Homo sapiens: one gene and its partner. The protein of the gene in region 1 purifies or fractionates together with the protein of each later gene. This does not show direct contact. Each region holds a gene or a part of one and is shown on either strand. Other genes may lie near its edges.

Region 1 (3,747 bases):
GTGCCTGGCCAGGAAGTATTTCTTACTAAAAGAGACCCAATGTATAAGCCTCCCCACAATTCCACACTTTGAAAAGGTATCATAGGTTGAATATTAAGAACGCCCAACCCTACTGAAGTATTCAAATTTGACCTATGTTTACATAAAGCCATGGATTTAAAAAAACACTATTATCCTTGAAAATGATTTTGTCAAGATAGCTGTTTCGCAGGATTTCTCATTTCACATTCAAATAGAATCACTTATAGTCACGCGTCACTTAACTACAGGGAAACATGAGAAATGAGTTATTAGGCAATTTTGTTTTTGTGCAAACATAACACTGTACTTACACAAACCTAGATGGTATGGCCAGCTACATATCTAGGCTATATGGCATAGCCTATTGCTCCTAGGCTACAAACCTGTACAGTATGTGACTGTACTGAATACCATAAGCAACTGTAACACAATGGTTTAAGTATTTGGGTATCTAAACATAGAAAAGGTACAGTAAAAATATAGTATAAAAGATAAAAAATGGTACACTTATATAGGACACTTTACATGAATGGAGCTTGCAGGACTGGAAGTTGCTCTGGGTGAGTCAGTGAGTGGTGAGTGAATATGAAGGCCTAGGACATTACTGTACACTACTGTAGACTTTTTTTTTTTTTTTTTTTTTTTTTGAGATGGAGTTTCGCTCTTTTGCCCAGGCTGGAGTGCAATGATGCGATCTTGGCTCACCGAAACCTCCCCCTCCTTAGTTCAAGTGAGTCTCCTGCCTCAGCCTCCTGAGTAGCTGGGATTACAGGCATGCACCACCACGCCTGGCTAGCGGCTAATTTTTTTTTTTCTGAGACGGAGTCTTGCTCTGTCGCCCAGGCTGGAGTGCAGCAGTGCGATCTCAGCTCACTGCAACCTCCCTCTCCCGGGTTCAAGTGATTCTCCTGCCTCAGCCTCCCTAATAGCTGGGATTACAGGCACGCGCCACCACACCTGGATAAGTTTTGTATTTTTAGTAGAGATGGTTTCGCCATGTTGGTCAGGCTGGTCTCGAACTCCTGACCTCAGGTGATCCGCTTGTCTTGGCCTCCCAAAGTGCTGGGATTACAGACATGAGCCACCATACCCGGCCTAATTTTGTATTTTTTGTAGAGACGGGGTTTCACCATGTTGATCAGGCTGGTCTCGAACTCCTGACCTCAAGTGATCCACCCGCCTTGACCTCCCAAAGTGCTGGCATTACAGGCATGAGCCACCGCACCCGTCCCCTACTGTAGACTTTATACACACTATACATGTAAGCTACAATTTATAAAACACTTTTCTTTATTCAATATTAAATTAGCCTTAGGTTATTATATCTTTTTAACTTTATACATTTAAAAAATTTTAAACTTTTGGACTCTATTTAATAACACTTGGCTTAAAAAACAAACACATTGTGCAACTGTACAAAACTATTTTCTTTCTTCATATCCTTATTCTATAAGCTTTTTTCTTTTTTTTTTTTTTGAGATGAAGTCTCATTCTGTCATCCAAGTCGGAGTGCAGTAGCACAATCTCAGCTCACTGCAACCTCCGCCTCCCAGGTTCAAGCGATTCTTGTGTCTCTCAGCCTCCTGAGTAGCTGGGATTACAGGCGCGTGTCACCACGCCAAGCTAATTTTTGTATTTTTTGTAGAGACAGGGTTTCACAGTGTTAGCCAGGCTGGTCTTGAACTCCTGACCTCAAGTGATCTGCCTACCTCAACCTCCCAAAAATGTTGGGATTATAGGTGTGAGCCACCACGCCCAGCCACTATAAGCTTTTTTCTATTTAAAATTTTTTTTTTTAATTTTTAAACTTTTTTATTAAAGACTAAGACACAAATACACACACTAGCTTAGGCCCACACAGGGTCAGGATCATCAATATCACTGTTTTCTACCTCCATGTCCTGTCCCATGGAAAGGTCTTCAGGGACAATAACATGCATGGGACTGTCATCTCCTATGATAATGCCTTCTTCTGGAATACCTCCTGAAGGACCTGCCTGAGGCTGTTTTACAGTTAATTTTTTTTTTTTAAGAGACAGCTTCTAGATTGCCTCCTTGTTTCTGCTTCCATACTCACAAAGTGATTGTCTGATACAATTCCTGGGAAAATGTACACTGCATTCGTGGTCACAGATAGGGGATACCGTCCACCATTTTATAAATGAATAAACGAGTATTCTAGTTTAGACAGTGCGACAAAGAGTTTTTCATTCCTGTGGGGTCTGCAAGTGTGACCAACGAACTGGCAACAGTGCAGCTGTGTCTTGGAGAGCCAAGCTACAGAAAGAGTTTGGGAGTGATGACTATGGAGGTGGCAGCTGAAGTGTGGAATTCATGAGGTTACCAGGAAGGAGATGAAAATGAGAAGAGGAGGAAAGAAAGCTAAAGTAACCTTGGAGACTATCAATGTTCAAGCAACAAGTAAAGAACTCAAAAAGTGTAATAAAAAGGGGCGAGGCGCAGTGGCTCACACCTATAACCCCAGCACTTTGGGAGGCCAAGGTGGGAGGATCCCTTGAGGATGGGAGTTTGAGACCAGTCTGGGCAACATAGTAAGACCCCCATCTCTACAAAAACTTTAAAAAAAATTAGCCGGGCATGGTGGTGCACATCTGTAGTCTTAGCTACTCAGGAGGCTGAGGCAGGAGGATCACTTGAGCCCAGGAATTGAAGGCTGCAGTGAGCTATGATCATGCCACTGCATGTCATGCACCCCGGCCTGTGTGACAGAGCAAGAACCTGTCTCTTAAAAAGAAAAAAGAAAAAAGCATAATAAAAAGGAAAGGCCATATAGGTAGGAGAGAAGCGTGTGCTAACAAACCAAGGCAGGAGAGAGTTTCAAGGAGGAAATGGTCAACAAGGGTTAAGGGTTGCAGAGACATCAGGTAAGAAGTATAATACATTGTGCAATGATGGAACAATGATCTCAGAAAAAGGAGTTTCAGAAGAGTTTAAGTGCAGAAGCCAGAATACAGCAGGCTGACTGAGGAAACAATGTCAAGTGGGAGGGTAATTCAAACAAACTAACTTTGTTTGAAAAGGAGAAAGGGCTCTGGCTAGAGGCAAAAAGTGGAAGACATGTAAATACGAAATTTACACTGGGCGAGGTGGCTCAGGCCTGTAATCCCAGCACTTTGGGAGGCAGAGGTGGGCGGATCACCTGAGGTGAGGAATTGGAGACCAGCCTGGCCAACATGGAGAAATCCCATCTCTACTAAAACTACAAACAATTAGCCGGGAGTGGTGGTGGATGCCTGTAATCCCAGCTACTCGGGAGGCTGAAGCAGGAGAATCGCTTGAAACTGGGAGATGGAGGTTGCAGTGAGCCAAGATCGCGCCACTGCACTCCAGCCTGGGCAACAAGAGTGAGACTCCATCTCAAAAACAAAAACAAAAACAAAAAAACCCACGAATTTTAAAGGTCCCTGGGCATATTTTCGGAATGAAGGGAAAGACCTAGGAAAAAAAAAACCGGTTGAAGACAGAACAAAAAAGAGGGTAGAGATAAATGAAGGAGCAAGGTTTGGTATTCAGAACACGGTTTGAAAAATTAGCCTTAAAGGAAAAAAGGTGAGGAGGTAACTTTGTTGCTAGGGGGCTGAAAGCCAATGAGTTCCTGACAATGGGTCTGGTTTCCACTTTCTTGTTAAAATAATAAAAACATTTAAAAGTTGATGAGTACTTATCTCATTAAATCCTCACACTAACGCTGTGAGACTAGATGAG
Region 2 (3,747 bases), on another chromosome or scaffold:
GCCTCAACACGCACACACTCGCGCGCACGCCGGCCCATCGGTTGCCTGGAGGAGTCGGGAAGGTGCTTCCACGGCTCTTCATTCATTTTCCCAAAGGCAAGGTTCCCTTCGCCCCGGCGCCTCTATCCTGCCATCCCAGGGGGCCAATTGCGCCACAGCCCGCCACCCAGCCACCCACAGCCACCGCGTCCTATCTCCCGGCACACACAACCCAACAGACTCGCATTACATCTCCACCGCCAGCGTCGCCTCCGCGCCCCGGCCGCTGCCATCCGGCTCCCCAGCTTCGCCGCCCCGCAGCCCCGGCTCCCCGCCTCTGGCCTCACCGCGCGGCTCAGAGCTGCCTCGCTCGGCTCGCCGCACCAAGGCCGGCCAGAGACGCCGCCACCGCCGGGAAGCGCCGGCAACTCCCGAGTCACGCCGCCTCCCGAGACGCGGCGGGGCGCAGGGAGGGGACAGCAGTGGGGGCGGGGCGGGGAGGAGGAAGGAGGAGGGGGCGGGGAGCAAAAGTTCACACCGCTCGGGGCTCAGCCGCTCCCCTATCTCTTCCCAGGCCCGCCCCCGCCATCCCCCTTCCCTGAACCGGGTCCCACGGGCTTAGGCGCGGGAGAGCTCTGGCCTCCCCGCCCGGAACCGCCGCAAGGCTAGAGCCAGGGTTCTGGAAGCGCATCCGAGCTCGCAACCGGGGAGAGAGTGGCGGATGCCCACTTACCTGCCCCGGGCCGCGCCTGGAAACTTCCCCAAAGTGCGATAGGGGTGTGGGGGCGGAGCGCAAGGCTGGGGGGAATCCCCGTCCCCTACCGCCAAACGACGCGCGCTCACACCGTGAAAGCACTGGTCTGTCCGTCGGTCGGTCCCCCGCCTGCGGCTCCCAGAGCTGGGCGGTGCAGGGGCGCCCCGATTCCGACTACTGGGCTCCTTCTCCCGGACAGCCCGCCGGTGCGTTCCACGCGGCTTGCGCCCCCCGCCGGCCTCCGGCTATCCACGGCGCCACCACGCCACTGCTCGGTCCCCTGTCCCCTCGCTCCGGCCGCGTCCTCTCTGCGAGGGAGGGGGCGTGTGTCGCCGCTGGGTAACCCTTCCCGCGGGGTCCTCAAGCGCGCAGGGCGCCCGGAGCGCGGCCAGGACCAATGGCGAAGGGACTCCTCCCGCTGGGGATCGCTGAAGCCTCGGGGAGGCCGGGCCAAGGAGCCCGGGGCCCAAACCTGCCTCGGCTCGTCGAGCTCGCAAGTTCATTGTCTGCCTGGGCCGCCGCCGCCACCGCCACCGCCACCACCGCGCCGGGAGCGCCGCGGGGAGTGAGGCTGCGCGCCGCCTCCGCCGGCCCGGACTCCCTACGCCCAGCCCCGGCCGCCGCCGGCGCTGCCTGGCCCGAACCCGCGGAGGGGCGCCGGAGCCCCGAGCCCAGGGCCAGACCTCCTACCGCCGCTCCTCGCCGACCCCACCTCGGCGTCTGGCACCTAACTTGTACCTGAGAAGCCTGAGTCCAGCCCGGGAGCCTCTGCGGCTCCGGCTCCGCGGGAGCGCGCCCAGCCCCGAGCCTCTAGCCCCGCATCCAGGGCGCGTCAACCTGACTCCCCGAGCGCTGGGAGGAAAAGTTTGGGAGTGACGTGCAGACGGCGAATGAAACATCCGAGGAGAACCCTCCCCCCGCCCCATGTCGCGCTGACACACATCAGCTCCAGTCTGGAATGTGAGATCAAGGCGTGTGCGCCGAGCGGTGGGTTTGGCCCCTGCCCCCTCCCCCTCCGAGTCAACACTGCTTGTGTGTTGCGGTGATTCCAAATAAAAGCACATCGAAACCCCTGAAATCTGGCAGTGACACCTTGCCAGATACTTCTTTTTTTTAAAGACAGAGTTTCGCTCTTGTTGCCCAGGCTGGAATGCAATGGCGCGATCTCGGCTCACTGCAACTTCCGCCTCCCGGGTTCAAGAGAGTCTCCTGCCTCAGCCTCCCGGGTTCAAGAGAGTCTCCTGCCTCAGCCTCCCGAGTAGCCGGGATTACAGGCATGCGCCACCACGCAAAATAGGCTAATTTTATATTTTTAGTACAGACGGGGTTTCTCCATGTTGGTCAGGCTGGTCTCGAACTCCCGACCTCAGATGATCCGTCCGCCCCCCCAACCCAAAGTGCTGGGATTACAGGCGTAAGCCACCGCGCCCGGCCGCCAGAGACATCTTTAAGGAACTTGGCGGTCTGGAGCCAGCCCGTACATTAATATTCAAGGCCACAGCGCTGGTGAGTTCGGCGCCCTCTGTTGTATTTTTGCATCCCGGGAAGGCTGGCCCGGCTCTTTGGCCCGGCGTGTTTTGCTTCCGCGGGGGAGGTAAAGCTCTGCAGGACCCCGATCGCCACGGCCTGCCGCAGTGGCCTGGAGTCGGCTGCCCCAGGGAACCACCTGGACAGCCCGAGGGCAAGAAAGCGGCACCAGTGGCCGACTCCACTGACTCTGGGCTGAAGATGCCATCAGTTAAAGAAAAGACACATGAAATTCTGGCAGATTCGCTCAGAGGGCGCTTGGAGCACCAAGCCCAGCCTCTCAGGAAACTGAGGTCCAAGGGACAAAAAGAATCTGCAGTCTCTTGCCGGCCTGTGTCCCCGTGGCCAGAGTCCAGCACCCTCTTCCTCGAAGCAACCAGAAGTGGAAATGAAAGTGCTCCGTTAACTGTAGACTACATGCCACCGAAGGGTCATTCCTGACAGTGGCTTCTCCCCATTATCTCTTTATTGCCGGAGGCTTCATCTCGCCCCCCTGAAGCTACAGTCCACCCTGAGGTCATAAACTTCTGCTCAGCACCCATGGCAACTAATGCAGAGGTCACCATCAGAGGATTATAACTGCAGATGGGAAACCGGGATGAGAGGGGAGTTCTTTAAAATCCTGTCTTGTTTTCCTGCAAATAATGCCTCTTACATAAAATCTGCGAAGAAAGATGAATGCAGCAAAGAGACTTGCCTTAGAATCTCAGACTAGATTGCTTTTTCCATATAGACTCCACTTAGTGATTTTTGTTCTTTATTTTTTTTTTAAACAAAAACCTATTTCTGAAAATACAACGAGCTGCTTTTTGCAGGGTTCACAATTCCCAATAGATGATGATGCCATTTTTCAAGGTCTCACACACGTTGTGGCTTTGGGGCTTATTTATTAGCTCCCAAGAAAAGCCTGCCTTTCAGTGAGGTTTATATACTCGAGTAATTGCATCAGGGGACACAGAGCAGGTTGCTGTTAAAGAGGGTTGGTTGTACATGCGTCTGCAAGGAAGGCCCTGGGCCAGGCAGCTGTCAGACCAGTGTGCAACGGGTTTAAACAAACACAGGGAAGGGTCTGTGGAAACAGCAAGGAGGAAATCCCCTTCTGTAAGGGTGTGTGGAACATTATTCCAGGGCCACACATACTGCCAGGGAATAATGCCTTTCCTCTCCTCCCTCCAAGTAAACACATAACTCCGTTATGGAGATGGCGCTGGGCCCACCCAGATCACTTTCAAATTCAGGTGTCAGAAACCACGGTTGACATGGAGCAAAATTGTTTTTAAGTAAAAATCACGGTGCCGCTTTGATATGAATTCCACCAGGGACTTTCCAAAGGTATTTATACACGTGCCTGAGATTAACTAGAAGGTGATTTTTTTCCTTTCAACCTTAATTTCAAAAAATTACCCAAGAATTGCACTTGAGCCTGTTACTGCAGAGAATTGAAAGAACACCCAAATGCCAGGTCCCTGTGGATGGGTGGAAGGATA

Evidence for each region.
Region 2: the proteins of PIN4 (region 1) and CHST15 purify together in Homo sapiens (affinity purification with mass spectrometry; 2 studies listed by BioGRID and IntAct, with this or other methods). This does not show direct contact.

Annotation. Positions count from the first base shown.
Region 1 is NC_000023.11:72,191,623-72,195,369, reverse strand, and holds part of PIN4 (peptidyl-prolyl cis-trans isomerase NIMA-interacting 4), read right to left. Parts: intron 1-3,747.
Region 2 is NC_000010.11:124,091,998-124,095,744, forward strand, and holds the start of CHST15 (carbohydrate sulfotransferase 15), read right to left. Parts: upstream 1,602-3,747; 5' UTR 1,472-1,601; intron 1,331-1,471; exon of another isoform or gene 713-1,330; intron 410-712; exon of another isoform or gene 230-409; intron 1-229. UniProt on the Homo sapiens protein: Sulfotransferase that transfers sulfate from 3'-phosphoadenosine 5'-phosphosulfate (PAPS) to the C-6 hydroxyl group of the GalNAc 4-sulfate residue of chondroitin sulfate A and forms chondroitin sulfate E containing GlcA-GalNAc(4,6-SO(4)) repeating units.